Linked DNA regions of Homo sapiens. The protein of the gene in region 2 purifies or fractionates together with the protein of the main gene of each other region. This does not show direct contact. Each region holds a gene or a part of one and is shown on either strand. Other genes may lie near its edges. The genes, in order: NUMBL, FZD3 and SLC10A4.

Region 1 (4,329 bases), on a different chromosome or scaffold from region 2:
AGTCGCCAGCCAGACGCAGCCACTGCCGGCAGCCTCCCCACCAAAGGGGACTCCTGGGTGGATCCCTCATGACAGCCTCCATGGGGGATTCAGTCCCCAGAGCAGGCCGTACCCTGCTGTAGTGCCTCTTATCCCTTCCCCGTCTGCCCTGGGTCAGAGGAGCCCCCTTGGGCTTCCCAGTCTTGCCTGGCTCTCCTCCTTGGCCCAGGAGCTCAGGATCCCTGGGGCTGGGGAACTCCCAACTTCGTGCCCTAGATCCTGCACCTCCCCACTCGAAAGTGGGTATCCGAAAACTAAGCCAGGGAAGCGGTTAACTTATCTTTGCCAACATTTGAGGGAGCCTTGGGCCGCTGCATGTCGTTATGCAGATCAGACTCATCAGGGGGAGCCCTCACCTCTGCCTCAAGCCTCCCGTGGAAGGCGAGATGGTCCTGGAGGCAGTCCTCACCTCTGCCTCCCTCGCTCCTCCAACAGCTGCCTTCTCCCGGGTTCCAGCCTCTCAGTGTGTTGGAGAGGTAGGGGTGCGGGGTGGGGGGGAGCTGAATCTTCAATCGGAATAAAAGCAGCCCTCCCCTTCCCCCAGCTCTTTTCTCTGCGCTAGGGTTGGGGGGAGAGGGGGAGGAGCTCGCCAGCGGCCTCCAGGTGCAGATGGCCAGCCCCCCTGCACCCCCTTGTCTGAAAGCCTCAGCCCTGCCTGTGCCATCTGTTGCCGGGAACCTCCTTCTCGCCTTCCCCACCCCCCCCCACGTGCTGACCACCTGCTCTAAGGGCTGTGGCAGCTGAGGCCTCCCACACACACAGTGCCTCTTGGCTGCGGGCTCCCTCCCCTCACTCCTGGCAACCTCGCCTTTACTAATGGGCTCTAATGTCCCTGCCAGCTGCTTTGCCAAACCCACAGGATTGGCGTAGGGGGCGGCGGGGGCGCCGTAGCGGCCAGAACCGCGCCCTGGTCCCACCCCGGCGCCCCCGTTCCCAAAGCCGAACCGATCGCGCATCAGGACGCCTTGGTCTGTTCACACCCCCTCCCCTTCCTTGCAAAAAGTGCCTCGTCACCGCTCCTGCCCGCCCCCGCCGGGCTGGGGAACCATGGGGTTAGCGGGAAGATTTGGGGGTGTGGGGCGGCAAGGCGCCTCTAGAAGCAACTCTTTCGGACGCGGAGCTGGAGGGGATCTGAGGTCAGGTGTCACGGAGGGAAAGGGAGCCCAGGCCAGGACGGACCGGGGGAAAGGACTCGGCGATGTTCATAGGCATGCTCAGCTCGGGACTGGCCAATGGGCGTGGCGGGGCGGTGGCCGCGCCGGGGAAGGCGGGATGGTGTCTGCGTGTGGGCGGGGTCTTCAGGCCAAGGGGCGGGGCGGGGCGGGACCTTTCTGCATATACGGCAGGCGGCGGGCCAATGGGCGGGGTCGGGGCGGGGAGCCGAGGCCGAGGGACGCTCCCCCGCCCCCGGAACGGAATCCTCCCGGGAGCCGAGGAGGCTCGCGCGCGTGCATCCCGCACCATCCCCCGGCCCCGGGCCCTGGCCGGCGTCAGACCGAGCTGCCGCCGCCACCACCGCAGCAGCAGCAGTCGGGGAGCCAGGCCCAGCCAGGGCCGCGGGAGGCGGGGGCGCCCGGGCCCTGGATGTCCCGCAGCGCGGCGGCCAGCGTGAGAAGGGCGGGAGAGGGGGGCTCGGGTCGGGGGCGGCGCCGCTGCTGATGTGGCGGAGGGTGGGAGGCGGCCGCGGCGCCCGGATGGAGAGAGGGTGCCAAGGCTGGAGAGGGTGGTCCCGGGTGGGGGTCCAGGAACAGGCCCAACAAGCCAAAGCCCAGGAGACCGGGGTCTTGGGCACAGACCCCTGGGCCATCTCTTGCCAAGGCCCTGGAAATAGGGATCCTGGACACAGACCCCCCACAAAACCAAGGACAGGGGTACAGAGATTCTAGGTACAACTCCTAGAACTAGATGGGGATGGAGATGGGGTCGGGGACACAGCCCCCGTATCAAACCAAGGCCTCCAGGACGCGATTCCAGACACAATCCCTACCTCTCCCTGCCTAAGGGGGTCTCAGCACAACAACTGCCTAGGTACGGTCTCGAGGATGGGGTCACTGGGTACAGCGTTCCCACCACGCCAAGGCCTAGGGGGACTCCAAGCACAGCCTGCCCCCAGGTCTCAGAGGCACCCTGGGCACAGCATCCCCCCAATCCTTGGGCGGAGTCCCAGGCACAGCCACTTCTCAAAACAAGGTCCCTGTGCCTGGGACTCCACCCCACCCCAGCCTGAATAAAATAAGGACAATTTCAGGCAACCCCCAATCCCTCCACCCCCTGGCTTGGTCATGGGTCCCAGGGCACAGGATCCCTAGGCCACCCCCTTTGTCCCCAGGGCTGCCCAGCTGTCCAAGAGTGGCCCCACCCGCAGACAATGCACCGCTTCCCCCTCCTGGACCTGGCCCTCAGGCTCCAGGATACAGGCTGGGCTGGGGGCGGCTCCCCAGGGACCGGGTGCAGCCCTGTCTGTCTGCAGTGTCTGCGGTGACGGTGACGGCGGCTTTGTGTGTGGTACCTGGGGGGAAGGGGGGAAGCAAGCGATGGGGAGGTGGCTAGGAGTGTGCCCTGTGTTTGTGTGACTGTGGCTGTGTATGTGTGTGTGTGTGTGCACGCGTACGCTGCAGCTGGTGACTGAGGAATCCTGTGTCGTGTGTGTGTGCTTGTGGTGGTGTCTATGATTGTGTCTGTGACCCTAGTATCTGTGTGACTGTGTATGTGTGTGTGACAGCTGCTCACTGTGCAGAATCCTGTACTTTTTAGTCTGTCTGTGTTTGGAGGTGTGCATGGTTGTGACTGTGGTTGTCTGTGATTGTGTCTTTTGTGACCCTGTGTTTGTATGCCTCGGTAACTATAACTGGGTATGTGACAGTATGTGTTGAGTCTGGGGGTGGGCATGCGTGTGACTGACAGGACGTGGGTGGAGTTGTGACTGTGTGTGAGTGGAGTTGTCTATGGCTCCATGTGCATGTGTGACCCTCCCAGTGACTGACAATGTTTATAGTTGTGTCTCTACCTGATTTTATATACGTGAGTGACACACACCTGTCTGTGCAACTCTGCCTGTGTGACTGCCATTGTGTCTGAAGTCACATTGTATCTGTGTGACTGGGGTTGTGTGACAGTATTGTGTATGACAGTGGTTGCGTATGCAGAACCATGTCTGAGTGTGTGACTGAGGTTGTATTAATATAAATGACTGTATCTAGCAGTGTGTGTGATAACGAGTGATTGTGTGTATTTCTAGCCTTGCATGTGTGATTTGGGTTATGTATTTGACTTGGTGTCTGAAACCCTGGCTATTTAGAGGGATTATTTGTGTGTGACTAAAGCTGTGGATGTGTCTCCGTGCTGGTGCCAGGAAATTATGTTTGTAGGGGTGTGTATATGATTATGGCTTCCATATTATTGTGTTTGACCTGCATGTCTGACCCTGGGTGACTATAGATGTCTGTGTCTATGTCATCATCTGTGAGAGTGTGGGGTCTGTAGCTGTGTGCCTGTTTTTGTCTCTGTGTGTATGTGCTGGACTACCTGTGTTAGAATGTGTGATTTGGTGATGAGATTGGCCCCTGACTGTGCACATGGCTCCGTCAGGACCTGTGTCTTCTGTGTAAACCCAGCTATAAATGCCACATCCTGGTCACTGCATTTATGTGCATACACTGGACTGTGTACTTGTGACATGGGAAACTAAAACTGTGTGCTTATGTCTCTATGTGTGAGATATGTGTGTAGGTGGGGCTTGTGACTTTGTGCACCTGTCCACACGGGGCTGTGATTCTATATGGCCACATACTTGTCTGTGTGACTTGTGTGCCTGCATGAAGAAAGGCTATATGTTTCGCTGCATTGGAGTGACATGGTACAGCTGTGTATGGACACTGGGTGACGGGATTATGACCATGATAGGTGGCTGGGTCACATGGACATTGATGCTGTGGCCATGCCTATAGGACCACCATGGCTGTGTCTTGAGGGAGGCCATCCTTGGGGACAGTTGTTTGTGGGTGGTTGCATGCTGTGGCCATCAGTACCTCTGTATGTGGTTGTGTATAGAGGACTGTCCCTATGAGTGTGGCTGTCACAATAGACTGTGTGACTGATGCTGTGACCAGATTTGAGCACCTATGACTGAGTATGTGTGACCACGTGACAGTGTGTGGCCAAAAACAGTGTGTTGGTGTGACTGGTCTGGTTGAGGCTGCATGTGGTCTCCGTGGGACCAAATGTGTGTCTGTCCGTGTGCATCTGTGACCAGATGTCAGTGTGCAGCAGTGGAGATACGTGTAACAAGTG
Region 2 (3,650 bases):
TTTTAAGCCTTAATCACTTAACACATTGGAAGATTAAGTTATTTGTTGTAATCAGTAGATGATGACAAATGGACTTTAAACATTAGATGAAGCAGGAAAGTTCAGAAAAGAGATACTCTGAGATTAATAGGAATCTAGGTCCTGTGAATTAAATATGAAGCTATATAAACTTTCTTGTAGCAACCAGTAGGCAAAGGGCCAAAGACTATATAGACTTTAAGAGAAGGAAAGTAACATTTGAGCAATGAGTGTACACTGAGTGTATATTTTGTCTAACAAGACAATAATTTCCTTAAGAAGCTCTTATTTAGAGATAGTTATTGCTAATCCTTGCAATGCGTTCTTGAAAACGTGTCTGAAAAAAGACAAAGAATATCCCTCCTGTTCGCTCTGTAGGCACTGTGTAACCAGCATTTACTTTGAAACAACCTTTAGATGATCTTTCTCAATTGGAAATGCAAAATGTTACCTGCATTTATCAGGTGTCAAGAAAATGAAATCTCAACAGAATGATGGAATGGAGCCCTTTCTGTAGAGAAAGTGTGAATTGGAATAGAGTTGCTGAACATAATCTTTTGTTGCAGAACCCCTTTGACAAGCCCTTAGGGCCCTCTTTTCTCATCATCCTTTCTTCTGGGATTCAGCCTGCTTTCCTCTTCACAGTTGCCACCTCCTGCGTTTCCCACCGAGTTCTTTGGGTCTGATTTTGCAGGCAGCCCGGGAAGACAGTCTTCCAAGATTGGAATCCCTTCCCTTTATTGCTGTCTTTCAGGACAAATACTTAGTTGATTTTATTTTAAAGACTTTTACTTTTTGTCATCAAAAGAAACCTGATAAATAATGGTTGGAAATATAAAATTCCTGATGTTATACATTCATAAAAATAGAAATGGGTAAGCTTTAAAGTATCTAGTCCTTTTTGTTTTCTGATGGAATGTTAACCAAGTAACTTAGTCCGAAATCAGCTTTCCAGATATTCTGTATTGCTCTATGGAGAAGTGAATGTGTCTCTTTTCCCATACAAAGGGCGTGAGCAACTGTTGCATAGCATTCACTTTTTGCAGGGCCCTGGCCCCTGAAGCTGCTCACTCCGATTATGTTAATCTAATAGGTCCCCCCCCTTTTTTTTTCCAGTTGATATACTACAGTTTCTTATAATAAAAAAAAAATCAGTAAGAACGCCCCAAATGACTGTTAACTTTTATTTAATGACTTGCTACATTTTGATAGGATCTCTTTGGGTCCAGAATCTTTGCTATGTCCTGCAAGTCTGGAACTTCAACTTACAGCTTTTCCATGGATGACCTTACCTTAGGAAAAATGGCATACTCACATAATTGTGATTAGAAGCAGATAATTCATTATGTTATTGAAGACATATTATTTGGAATGTTTATCAAAAGTTTTTATTTTTTTATTTTATTTAATTTTTTTGAGACAGTCTCACTCTGTCACCCAGGCTGGATGCAGTAGTACAGTCTCCACTCACCGCAACCTCCACCTCTCATGTTGAAGCAATTCTCAAGCCCCTCCTGAATAGCTGGGCCTACAGGCGCATGCCAGCTAATTTTTGTATTTTTAGTAGAGATGGGTTTTTGCCGTGTTGGCCAGGCTGGTCTCAAACTCCTGGCCTCAAATGATCTGCATGCCTTCGTCTCCCAAAATGCTTGGATTACAGGCGTGAGCCACTGTGCCCAGCCAGGAATGTTTATCAAAAGTTTTTAAATTGTGCATACCATTTGATTCAGTTGATTGGTTATCTGATTTTTTTAGTATTGAAAATCAGATTTTGACTCTTACTAAATTGATCATCACTGATTTGCTTTTCTTACTAGGTACAGTAGAGCAGTAGTGTATTCCTTGGCTTGTTGCTTAATTAGTAGTCAATAAACCAGTCATTTCACTAGTATTTTTTCTTGTCAGCCAGTCAGCACATATTTACAGATTTAGCAGAGTTAATTACTTCATACACAAAATAATGTACTATAGGTTCTTTCATAAAATTCCATAAAGCATTTAATATTTTATTTTTAAACAATCGAAATAGTTTTACTGTGTTACATGTACATATATATTTTCTGACAAAATGAGAGATATATACATATACTGTTTTGTAAACTGCCTTTAAATTTTATTTTTTATTTATTGTTACTATCTTACTGTATCCACAAATACAGGTTTATGCTCATCATTTTTAGTAACTATATAATATTCCATCATGTGGTTATACCATAATTTATTTAACCAATTTCTTATTGGTAGACTTTTCAGTTGTTACCAGCTTTTAGGGTTTTTTTTGTTATAAACAGTGTTACACTAATATTTTGGTTGTGCATCATGTGTACTTACGTGTTTACTTAGAATAATAAGATTTGCTGGATGAAATTGTGTACATTTTAAGGGCTTTTGATATAAGTAGCCACTTTTTTTTTTAAGTACCAACTAGTTTACTAATAACATTTGAAAATGTTGAAATATTGAAGGTGTTCTTTACCCTGTACTCCCACCCTATACTGTGTTCTATCATTATTGTTTTTTCCTATCTGGTTGGCAAAAAATCTTATCTCACATTTGCATTTTTTATTATTAGTGAAGTTGAATATCTTTTCATATGTTTCTTGGCTGTTTGTATTTCTTTTGTAAATTTATGTCCTTTGCTTATTTTTCTATTAAAATGTTATCCCCTATCTGCTTTTATTTTTAAAATTCATTTACTGTATATAATTACATAAACAATACCTTTATTCTTTTTAATTATTCTGTTCTAGGATAGCATTTCTCAAGACCTGACTTATGGAGCACTTGTAACCTGAGGTAATCATTAGAATGCATATCATTCTCCAGGATTCAGATTTCCAGGGGAATCCATGAATCTGCTACACTTTACGATTAGAGAACTGCTGTTTTGGGGGAAATGAAAATTCTTTAACACCTATACTTTACCTGTTTTCTTCATGTCTCACTGAATTCCACTGCTGTTTTTTCCCTTCTTTTAATAATCATAAACTGCAGTCTTGCTGTATCAAGATTCTTGTCCTTTCACAGCTTAACAGTAGATTTTACAAAAGCATCTTGGTACATGGTAATTTGAATGTCATAGTACATAAGGAAGCACTTTTATAAGAAGGTAGGATGCTTTACTTGCAAGTAAGGCAAAAGGAATAATCAAAAGGAAACCAGGTAAAATAGATGGAGTAGGCAGAAGTATAGGGGGACATTTCAGCTAGTTTTAAAGGCTCAGTGAGATATTGCTCAGTTTCTTCTTCAGGTTTTATGTGGTAGTCTTCTTTGAACCATTGATTTGAAACCCATACCTGCTTGAAAAATAGATTAGTTTAAATGAAATTTTTGAAATTCTTGTTGTTACTATATGCGTATTCAACAGGGAGTAATGTTCCCTTTAATTTTATTTAGTTGCAAGCAGATGAATATGCTGCATAAGTAATAAACTACAAAGACTGAACTTACATGGATGTTTTAATACTACAATCAAATAAAACTTTCAACAGTTACTTGACATATTTAGTGATATGCATAATTGTTACTGCGCTGCATGGTAATTAAGATAAATATGTTTTTAACTGTGGTTAATACCAGTTTTCTTTTTTTTTTCTGATGGAGTTTCGCTCTTGTTGCCCAGGCCTGGAGTG
Region 3 (3,834 bases), on a different chromosome or scaffold from region 2:
AACCAAGGCGCCCGAGGTGAGGAGGATTTCAATGAGAGAAACTCATCACCGGCATCAGCTGAGCCGGCTTCTCCCGGTGCCCTGATTGTTCCAGGTGCCTGCGCATCCCCCCCACCCCCGCTCCCTCACCGGGAAGCCGAGGCCAGGCCGGGTGCCTCTGGCTAAGTGAGCGAAAGTGCCAAGGTTTGGGAACTGTTCTGGGTCTATTACCCGTTAACTCAGATGATAAGTTTATTCTCAGAGCTGCTCTAAGAGGCTACCCACTGAGCCCCCTCGGCGAGTGCATGGAGAACCACCCAGGGATCTTCATCTAGGCGAATTGTTTTCTCCCCTGGAGCGTGTCCCTTCCCCCAGTCCCAGTGGTGACCGGGAGGTACCGTTTTGTTCTGCTCCAGAGCGGTTCTGAAAAATTTCCCAACCAAATCATTCCTACAAAAGATAAATTGATTTGGGGTGTGTTTACATAAATGCAGAAGACCAGTCGAAAAGAACATGGCTTGTCCACTAGAAAAATGTTGATTATTCATTAATAAGTAGATACCAGATCAAGTAATCAAATACATTAATGTAACTTTTCTCTGATACTGGTTTGACAAATACTATATTTCCTTATTTAACTGACCTGTTTTGGAATTCTTCTGAATACAGGTCAAAATTCAACATTGTGAGGAATTTTAAGTAGAGCAAGCACACTTTTTTTTTTACAACAATTACATTAAACTCAATTATGCTTTACAAAGATAGCTTGTTTTTCCTCATAGTGCGCCAAAATTCTACATTTCCAAGACCCTGTTTTCTAATAGATTCTGTATTTGCAACAGTCATAGAAATTGGTGATGGTAAAAACTAAAAACCACATTTAATTCAGGCTTCACGTTAGCCATTCCAGGTGCAAATTATATTACAGCATTGATTTGTAATTTGTGACAACGTTTGGTTAATACACCAGTGAACCTTAAAAAGATCAGAATTGTTACATGTATGATGTGAACCAGTGTTATCTTTTATGTTAACCATGTGCACTACCACAGGCTATAAATATGAAGCAATATTTCAGCAAGATAGAAGCTCCTGTGTATCTCCACATTTAGAGAGAAGTCTGAGCGGTTTCCATCATTATTATATTTTCTGCTTTCACTGTGCCATAGGAAGTGTCTGCCATTTCCTCTTCTTTTAGTTTTTTATAAGAAATATCTGTATCTTCATCTTCATCTAGAGGATCTCGCTTGTGCAACATTTCACTTCCATACATTTTATAGATTAAAACAAAAATCCCCGCTTCTGCAGACTGGAAAAGTGCATACAGCAAAGGAAACATGTACATGCTTCCTATGAATTGCGGTGGAAAGGCCAGTTTTAGAATGGCTGTACAGAGCTGCACATTCTGACTACCTGTTTCCAGACATACAGTCCTCTTGCAGTTGGGTGGAAGATGGAAGAGAGTAGCTAAACCATAACCTGAAGCGTAGCCTGCCAAAGGCATAAAAATTGCTATCACATAAACAGCTGCAGGGATACTTGCCAGCAGTTCAGGTCCTAACATAGTGCCGGTCATTATGAAAAGGACCACCAGAGTCACTAGCAGAGACCACAGGGAAACCTAGTAATAGAAAATTACAATGAGATGGTTGAAGATGAACTCAGGCGAGAGAATCCTAAGCTCACGGAAGAAAACACCCATCTAGTATGCTCTCCAACACAAAATGGAGACCTTTGACAGAATATTTCTGAAGATGGGCAGGCCACCTCTTCAGGAAGCATCCAGAGCCACATTGGGCAGCTCTGATTGTTTGGAGGCCTGTCCTTATGTCCAGGGACAATTTGCCTTCTATAACCTCTAGCCATTGAGTTGGATATAGGCTCTCAGGAGCGACAGAGACCAGCTCTTCAAAAACAAAAAACAAACAAAAAAACCCAGCTTTTCTGGCCAGGCGCGGTGGCTCACACCTGTAATCCCAGCACTTTGGGAGGCTAAGGTGGGTGGATCATGAGGTCAGGAGTTGAAGACCAGGCTGGCCAAGATGGTGAAACACTGTCTCTACTAAAAATACAAAAATTAGCCAGGTGTGATGGTGAATGCCTGTAATCCCAGCTACTCGGGATGCTGAGGCAGAGAATTGCTTGAACCTGGGAGGTGGAGGTTGCAGTGAGCAGAGATCGCGCCACTGCACTCCAGCCTGGGTGACAGAGCAACACTCCATTTCACCAAAAAAAAAAAAAAAAAAAAAAAAAAAAAAAGCTCTTCAAAAAAAAATAGCCTTCAAAAGCTTTTTTCCTGAAAAACAGCTCTTCAAAAGCTTAAAAACTGGTTATCAGGGGAAGGCTACTCTTCTTCAGGCAGATCATCCCCAAACTTAAACCTCCATCACATAACTTTGTTTTGGTATCCTGACTGTTCTGAGAATGTGTTTCATATGTGAATGTGCCTCTTAAAAACAGGGCATTTAGAACTGAACCTAATACCCCAGGTATGGTCTGATCATCAGAGCAGACAAGTGGATGTTTACTTTCCCTGAACTGAACCCCGTGTTTTCCATAAGAAATTAGTTCTCATTTTACATGAGTTAAAACTTGTGAAACTTGATTAAAATGTCTGAAGCTCAGTGTGTGATCTTTTTAACCCTCAAAATATACTGCAGAGGATTGCTTGCAATATTGAAACAATTACCTACTCTTAGATTATGTAAGAGAGAAAAATGTAAATAAATATGTGAAGAATTCTTTGCAATTTGGCAACTTTCCCCTTTTTTATTTGTTCATGAGAAACCTCCCATCTATAAGTCTGTAATGATGCTTACGTATTATTACAATAGATGGATTTCGGATACAGTACAACTGACTTCTGTATAAAACGTGTCATCTTGATGTTCTGACTGGTACATTTCACTCATTCAAATAAAACAGTCTGTATGAATTGTAAGGCGGAAATCTAAAAATTCCTCTCCTCGTTCTCCTTCATATTGGTAGTTAACTTATTTTTTTTTAATGAGGAGTGGGCAGGGAAAGGAAACTAGAGCCAGAGAGAACAGCTTAAATGTTGCTTCTGGTTCCCTGGATAGCTGGGATATCCCTTTTGCAGTCTTCGGGAATGGCGTAACTCTACACTCTTAAAAAATTATTTAAAATTTATCTGAGCTGGTCACAAATTCTACCCTAGAGGATGCTGCAATAATTATTATATAAGGTACAGATACTACAGATGCATAATTGGCAGAAACCAGGCTATTACATGTAAAAGCATACCATTTCAAAGTATGTCACATTGAAAGCGCTGACAAACAGTCTGATTTCTTCATTTTGAAATATTGGCTCCAAAGTCCCTTAGAACTATTTTAAATCATTTGGGCAAGCATTGACATTGAATGCTCATTTTGAAGTGTTTGCAAAGGTGTAACAATTATATAAACCGTTTCTTAATAGTGTGTTAATTAAAGAATAGGGCTAGGTTAACCTTAAATTCAAAGGTAGCTAATCTTATGTCTATTATATTTAAATATTAAATATATTAATTTATTAATATATTTATTTTAAATATATTTCTTGTTTTGGGTGTGTAAATAGGTCATTTGATTGACTTTCTCTTAGACTTCCTAAGGTTTTATAGTAAATGCCATCACATTAATAGCATTAGCTTAATGATTAAGATTAACAAGTTCTTAATGCATCTCAAGAGTATCTATGAGTATATATTACAGGTATTAATATATGCATATTTACATGTACACATACATTTTTACATTCACATATACATGTGTATTATGGAGCAGGATTTCTTTTACTCAAGCCTGGATATATGCACAGAAAAGAACTCTCTACTTTTCATATTAATAAAAG

What was found.
Region 1: the proteins of FZD3 (region 2) and NUMBL fractionate together in Homo sapiens (co-fractionation; one large-scale study listed by BioGRID). This does not show direct contact.
Region 3: the proteins of FZD3 (region 2) and SLC10A4 fractionate together in Homo sapiens (co-fractionation; one large-scale study listed by BioGRID). This does not show direct contact.

Annotation. Positions count from the first base shown.
Region 1 is NC_000019.10:40,687,778-40,692,106, reverse strand, and holds the start of NUMBL (numb-like protein), read left to right. Parts: upstream 1-1,455; 5' UTR 1,456-1,623; coding exon 1,624-1,647; intron 1,648-1,942; exon of another isoform or gene 1,943-2,067; intron 2,068-4,329. Other genes in the region: COQ8B (atypical kinase COQ8B, mitochondrial), read left to right, coding at 1-72. UniProt on the Homo sapiens protein: Plays a role in the process of neurogenesis. Required throughout embryonic neurogenesis to maintain neural progenitor cells, also called radial glial cells (RGCs), by allowing their daughter cells to choose progenitor over neuronal cell fate.
Region 2 is NC_000008.11:28,497,165-28,500,814, forward strand, and holds part of FZD3 (frizzled-3 isoform 1 precursor), read left to right. Parts: intron 1-2,768; 5' UTR 2,769-2,814; intron 2,815-3,650. UniProt on the Homo sapiens protein: Receptor for Wnt proteins.
Region 3 is NC_000004.12:48,486,193-48,490,026, reverse strand, and holds the end of SLC10A4 (sodium/bile acid cotransporter 4), read right to left. Parts: intron 1,601-3,834; coding exon 1,088-1,600; 3' UTR 501-1,087; downstream 1-500. UniProt on the Homo sapiens protein: Transporter for bile acids.